Linked DNA regions of Homo sapiens: region 2 is linked to region 1. The links come from fine-mapping of genetic effects on gene expression. A gene starts in region 1. The other region holds a variant in brackets. All regions are shown on one strand. Distances are between the middles of the regions.

Region 1 (2,905 bases):
GAGGGGGAGCGGGCTGGGGGGCCCTCTCTGCCCGGGGGCCGCGGGCGTAACAGGTGGGCGAAGGTGCGCGGCCCTGGCGAGGGCTGCGGCGGGGTCCATGGACACCGGAGGAGGAAACGCCAAGGTTTTTCCAAAGGACAAGCGGCCCCGCGGTCCTCCTGGTCCTCTGCTCGCGCGCCAGCAAAGCAGCTGCGCTCTGCGGGCCGCCGGGACCACGCGGGAGGCCGGGCCGCTCCCAGCCTCGGGCCCCTCCCCAGCTCGCCCCAGCCCCGACCCTCGGCCGCGAGGCCCTCCCGGAGCGGCTGGCGAGCGGGGAGCGACCGCGCGGCCGGCAGCAACTGGTGTCTCCCCGGGACGCAGCTCCGCCCTTCCCGGGAACAAAAGCAGCCGCCCGCGCCGGAGCTCCGGGAGGGCGGGCTGGCAGGGAGGGGGCGCGGCGCCGGCTCCGAGGAACCCGGCCCCGGAAATGGGACACCCCCAGGGGGTGCCCCCGAACTTCCCTCCTGTCCGGCCTGGGTCGGGGGAGGGCTCGAGGCCGGTGGGCAGGGCGCGGAGAGCGCACCGAGTGCGCCAGGGGCCCGCAAGCCCGCGGCGGGGTTGTGAACCGAGGCAGAGCGCGAGCGCGCGAGGGGGACCGGCGGAGGGAAGCCGCGAGGCCGTGGGGGGGCCGAGCCCGAGCCAGGGGAGGGGGCGCGAAGTCGGCGCGTGGGAAACTTACTGCAGTCGTCCGACTCGTAGCCGTCGGCGTCCGGCTCGTCCTCCGGCGGCTTGGCTGGCGGCCGCGCGGGGCTGGGACCCGGGCTGGGGCCCGGGCTGGAGCCGTAGGCTCCGAAGAGCTGGTCCACATCCTCGTCGTCCTCGCGGGCGCCGTCGGAGGGGCTGCGGCGGCCGGCACCGGCCACAGCCGGGCGCGCGGGGGCGTCCGGGGGTGCAGCGGCTCGGGGCCCGGCGTCCGGGGGCAGGCCCCGCGGGAAGCGGGGGAAGTAGTCGGAGATCTGCTTGATGGGACGGATGGGGCCGGGGCACACGTCGATGGCCATATGCTCCTGGATGCTGATGGTCGCCTTCTCCCCGCGCCGCCGGAGGGTCATGCAGGCAGCGCCGCCCCGCCCCGGGCGCGGCCCGGCCCGGCGCGACCCCGGCCCGGGGGCGGCTCAGCAGGCCCGGCGGGGCGCGGCGGGGGCTGCGGGCATCGCCGGCCGCGCCCCCGGACGGCCCTGACTTGGCCGCTGCCCGCTCCGCTGCGGACGGCGCGAGCGAGTGCCAGAGGCCGGCAGGCAGGGGGCGGGCCCAGCCCGCGTCACCCGGCAGCAACCAAGCAGGGTGAGTGTGCGGGCTGCGCGGGCGGCGCGGAGCGGAGGGAGCCGCGCGGCGCCACACTCACTCGCACTCGCACTCACACCGGCGTGCACGCCGGCCCGGGACCCCGCGCGCGCACACTCGCGGCCAGGCAGGGCCGCCGGGCGCCTTCCGCTCATGCACGCCCGCGGCACAAGCTGGGAGTCAACCCGGCAGGGACCCGCAGGACGCGCACCCACACGTTCCCGCGCGTGCCAGCCCACGCTGGGCTCCGCTCGCTCTCTCGGGACACACGCAGGTGTGCAAGTGCACACATGCGTGTGCAGAGACACGTGGTGGAAGCATCCGCTCGCTCACACCGTAGGTCACACACGCAAACGTCTGCATGCGCACATGGTTGTTTTAGGAAGCTGTGACACAGTACACCCCCAATGCACAGGCGCGCACACCTGATGGAGCACACACACAGGTGATCAAGGGCACCCAGGGCACAGGCTTCCCTACCCCCAAGCACCCCTAACAAGATGCACAAACATGAGCCCATAGAAGTGATCAGGGGACCCTGGGCACAACTCCTTCTCTCCTCCCCCTCTAGCAGGACGTGGAGTCACACTCCTAGCATGTAGGGACAGGTTGCCTACACACGGGCAGGACATGTACACGCTCAACTGCACAAGGACACCGGGGCTCAGTCTGTGCACACATATTCTCAGGTCACATACAACACAGCACTCTAACCTCGGGTCAGTCCCTCACTTGGTCAGTGAGTACAGTCTGAAGGACCCCCCGGGGCAGGGTGGCTGAGAACCTGCACAGGGCCTGGTCAGGAGGGAGTGAGGGCAGGGCCTGGGCGGTGAGTGATGCAATAAGGCTGGGCGGCACGCTCCCCCCACCCCCACTCCTACTCTAGGCCTCCCACACGGTCAGATCACTAAACAAATCCCAGAGGGCCCAGCCCTGGCTGTCCGGCTTTCCGGGACCAGAGCTCTGTTGGGAACTGCTGCTGCTTGGACAGGTGTGTTCCCGGAAAGCCCTGGGCATGGATGGAATCCTGTTTACCCTCTGGTTTCCACTGATGTGTAAGACACTTAGCTTCTTAGTGGGTGCCTTTGGTGCATCTGAATGAGGGGCTCCAAGCCTCTCTTGTTCCCCCACCATAACCCCTGCAGAGTGATGGGGAGCAGAGGAAAGAGAGGCAAAGCCTTGGCCTGTGGCTTCCAGCTGCACAGTTCTGGCAGGCTATTTGACCTCTTTGAGCCTCGGTTTCCTCATCTATGAAGTGAGGCTATTTCCAACTGCACAGCCTTGTGGCAAGGCCCCATCCAGCACAGACAGGTAAGAGGTGCTCAGCTGGCTTTCCCTTCTCCCTTCCTTTGGAAAGACAAGACTCATGGTGAGAAGTGATGAGAAATTCATGTTTTGTGGTGAGTTCTGAACTGGGTGGTGGCGGGCACTACCGGCCTTTGAAAACACTGGAGAAACACATGGCATATGTTGTACTGCGCCAAGAACATTCACAGCTGTCATCTCATTGATTCCTTAAACCACCCCACGATGTAGGCAGGGCCTGCTGTTCCCATTTCACAGGGGAGGAAATTAGCGCTCA
Region 2 (2,905 bases), 23 kb after region 1:
ACAGTCATGCATTGTATAACGAAGTTTGTCAATGACAGGCTGTATATCCAGCGGTGGTCCCATAAGACTACAAAGCAGCTGAAAATTCCCGTTGCCTAGTGAGGTTGCGGCGTGTAATGTCACAGTGCAACACGTTATCACTCGTTTGTGGTGATGCTGGTGTGAACACACCTATTACACTGCCAGTCACATACGAGTGGACAGTAATGCCCTGGGCCCTCACACTCACCACACACTGACTCTCCCACAGCGACTCCAGTCCCGCAAGCTCCATTCACGGGAAGTGCTCTATACACCTGTGTCATTTTAAAACATCTTTTATACCGTATTTTTACTGTACCCTTTCTATGATTAGCTACACACATAATTCCACGGTGTCGCAGTTGCTACATGCTGCACAGGTTTGTAGCCCAGGAGCCCAGGCTCTCCCACATAGCCTAGGTGTGCTGTAGGTTCTGCCACTTAGATTTACGTCCGTGCTCTCTATGATGTCTGCACAATGATGAAATTGCCTGACAACACATCTCTTGGAAGTATCCCTGTCGTATCCTGGTTGTTAGGTGACACATGCCTGTACTTCTGTGTGAATGAGTTTGAGTAAGATCTCATCTGCACACACATTAAGGGCTGGCTAGCCTTATTAGCATAAGGAATGTGGCAGTGGGTTTTCTTTCATTTATTTACTGTTTTTGAATAGGGTCTTGTTTTGTTACCCAGGCTGAGTGCAGTGGCGAGATCATGGCTCACTACAGCCTCCAACTTCTGTGCTCAAGCAATCCTCCTGCCTCAGCCTCCCAAGTAGCTGGGACTACAGCTATAGTGATTTTGATAGGGGGGGAATTTGTTGGGGGTCACTGAGGCGGGCTGGGGCACACAGACCAGGGCTCCCCACGAGGGCCTCTGAGGCACACAGACCAGGGCTCCACACAAGGGCCCTCTGAGGTACGCAGACCAGGCTGAGGCACAGAGACCAGGGCTCAAGAGCTGCTCTGCCCAGGATTCCTGTGGCTGCTGTGAACTGAGTGCTCCTGGCCGAGGACCCACAGCTTCTGGGAAGTGTAGGTTGGGGCTCCTGATCTGCTGGCCCCTCCCTAGGGATGCAGAGCACACAGGCCCTGGGCCTGGAGTGTTTCCATCCATCCACACATCCTTCTTCCCATCAGGACACTGGTCCATCCTCTGTTCATCTGTCCATCCTCTCAGATGTCCTTCAGCACATTGGTCCATGCAGAAT[A/G]TCTATGCACCTGTCTCTCCATCCATCTGTCCAATGCTCCATCAGTCTGTCCATCATCCATCCTCCCATCTGTCCTCCACCCACCCACCCCCACCATCCCCCACCCAATCATCATCCATCCAACTACCCCCTATGCCCCCACTCACCCTTCCCCCACCCAGCCATCCGTTAACCCCTCCCCCACCCATCCTTCCCCCACCCATTCCCCACTCAACTATCGCCCTACCCATCCCCCACTCCTCCACCCACTCACCCATCCATCTCCTCACCCATCCCTCACTCATCCAGACCTCCATCCATCTCCTCACTCACCTGCCATCCACCCATCCCCCAACCATCCTCACCCCTCCACCACCCACTGACCCATCCCCTACCCCTCCATCTACCCATGCATCCATGCATCCATTGATCCAGCAATATTTCTTGACAGCTAACTAGGGACCCAAAGGTGAATAAGCCTTGACTTCTGCCTTCAGGAGCCGGGCTCTAGGGAACCCAGCCTTGCCATGCCACGTCTGGAAGCAGAGCCTGGGAAGAAGGTGCAGCGACTGATCTGGGCAGGCCCCTGCTGTGGGGGCAGGGATGACAGGGCCCAGCTTTTGGTTCCCTTTTCCCCATGAAAGAGCCTGGGCAAAGGTGGAGGCGATGGCAGTCGGGAAGGAGGGAGCAGGGAGGGAGAAGCTTCATTTGTCAGCTGCTCAGCAGGTACAGTCAGACTTAAAATGTCTCCAAAGAGCAGCCGCTGAGAGGCAGGGGGTGAGCACGCTGAATTATTTTCTGGTAATTGGCACTGAAGAAGCTGCAGACATCCTGAGGTCTGCATCAAAGGCTCAGAGCTTCGGCCGTCTTGGTGGAGACTGGGGGCACCTCGTCGGGGGCTCCTAAGGATCTCTGAGCTCCTGCCTCCTCCTCCTCCTGCCTGCCTGCTCTCCTCGGTACTGTGGGGTGAGGAGAGGCACACTCTGCTTTGCTTTCTGCACAAGACAGCCCCGGGGTGGGGCCGGGCGCTGCGGGTCAGAGCCCTGACCGTTTGCAGAGGAAAGGAAAGGGACAGGAAACTGGAGCATCAAGGCCCTGCTTTGCAGGGGACACCAGGACTTAGCCATGGCAGGGGCTCTGCCAATGCTCTTCACACATGGCCTGGCGAGGTCCTTCTCCTCACATACTCCGGGCAATGCCAGTGCCAGGTTTTCCTTTGGTCTCATCCCTCCCCTGTGCAGAAGAGCATTTGCTGGCACTTGGATGAGCAATTTAAAGGCACTGGTCCTCCACATATATTTGAGACAGGGTCTTGCTCTGTCAATCAGGCTGGAGTGCAGTGGCACAGTCACAGCTCAGTGCAGCCTCAAACTCTTGGGCTCAAGTGATCCTCCCTTCTCAGCCTCCTGTGTAGCTGGTACTACAGGCATGCACCACCACGTCTGGCTATTTTTTTTTTTTTTTAATTTTTGTGGAGATGGCATCTCTCCATATTGCCCAGGCTGGTCTCGAACTCCTGGGCTCAGGTGATACTCCTGCCTTGGCCTCCCAAAGTCCTGGGATTACAGGCATGAGCCATTGCACCTGGCCTCCTACGTATTCTGTAAACAGGTGAACCTTTCTGTGTTTGTACATACTAGTGTATGCACACGTGTGTGTGCGTCTGTGTGCCGTCCATCTCCCCTGGCGAGG

The links.
Region 2: its variant is fine-mapped to the expression of DOC2B in whole blood (TOPMed, PIP above 0.99).

Annotation. Positions count from the first base shown.
Region 1 is chr17:180,389-183,293 of GRCh38, forward strand. It overlaps DOC2B (double C2 domain beta), which reads right to left and starts at 1,262. Exons shown (of 9, transcript NM_003585.5): 1 at 719-1,262. The coding sequence starts at 1,091. RefSeq lists enhancers at 1-184, 1,646-2,147.
Region 2 is chr17:203,066-205,970 of GRCh38, forward strand. No RefSeq gene overlaps it. Among named protein-coding and RNA genes, the nearest start is that of LINC02091, 17 kb to the left of the region's middle. The variant A/G (reference allele first, on the strand shown) is at 1,235.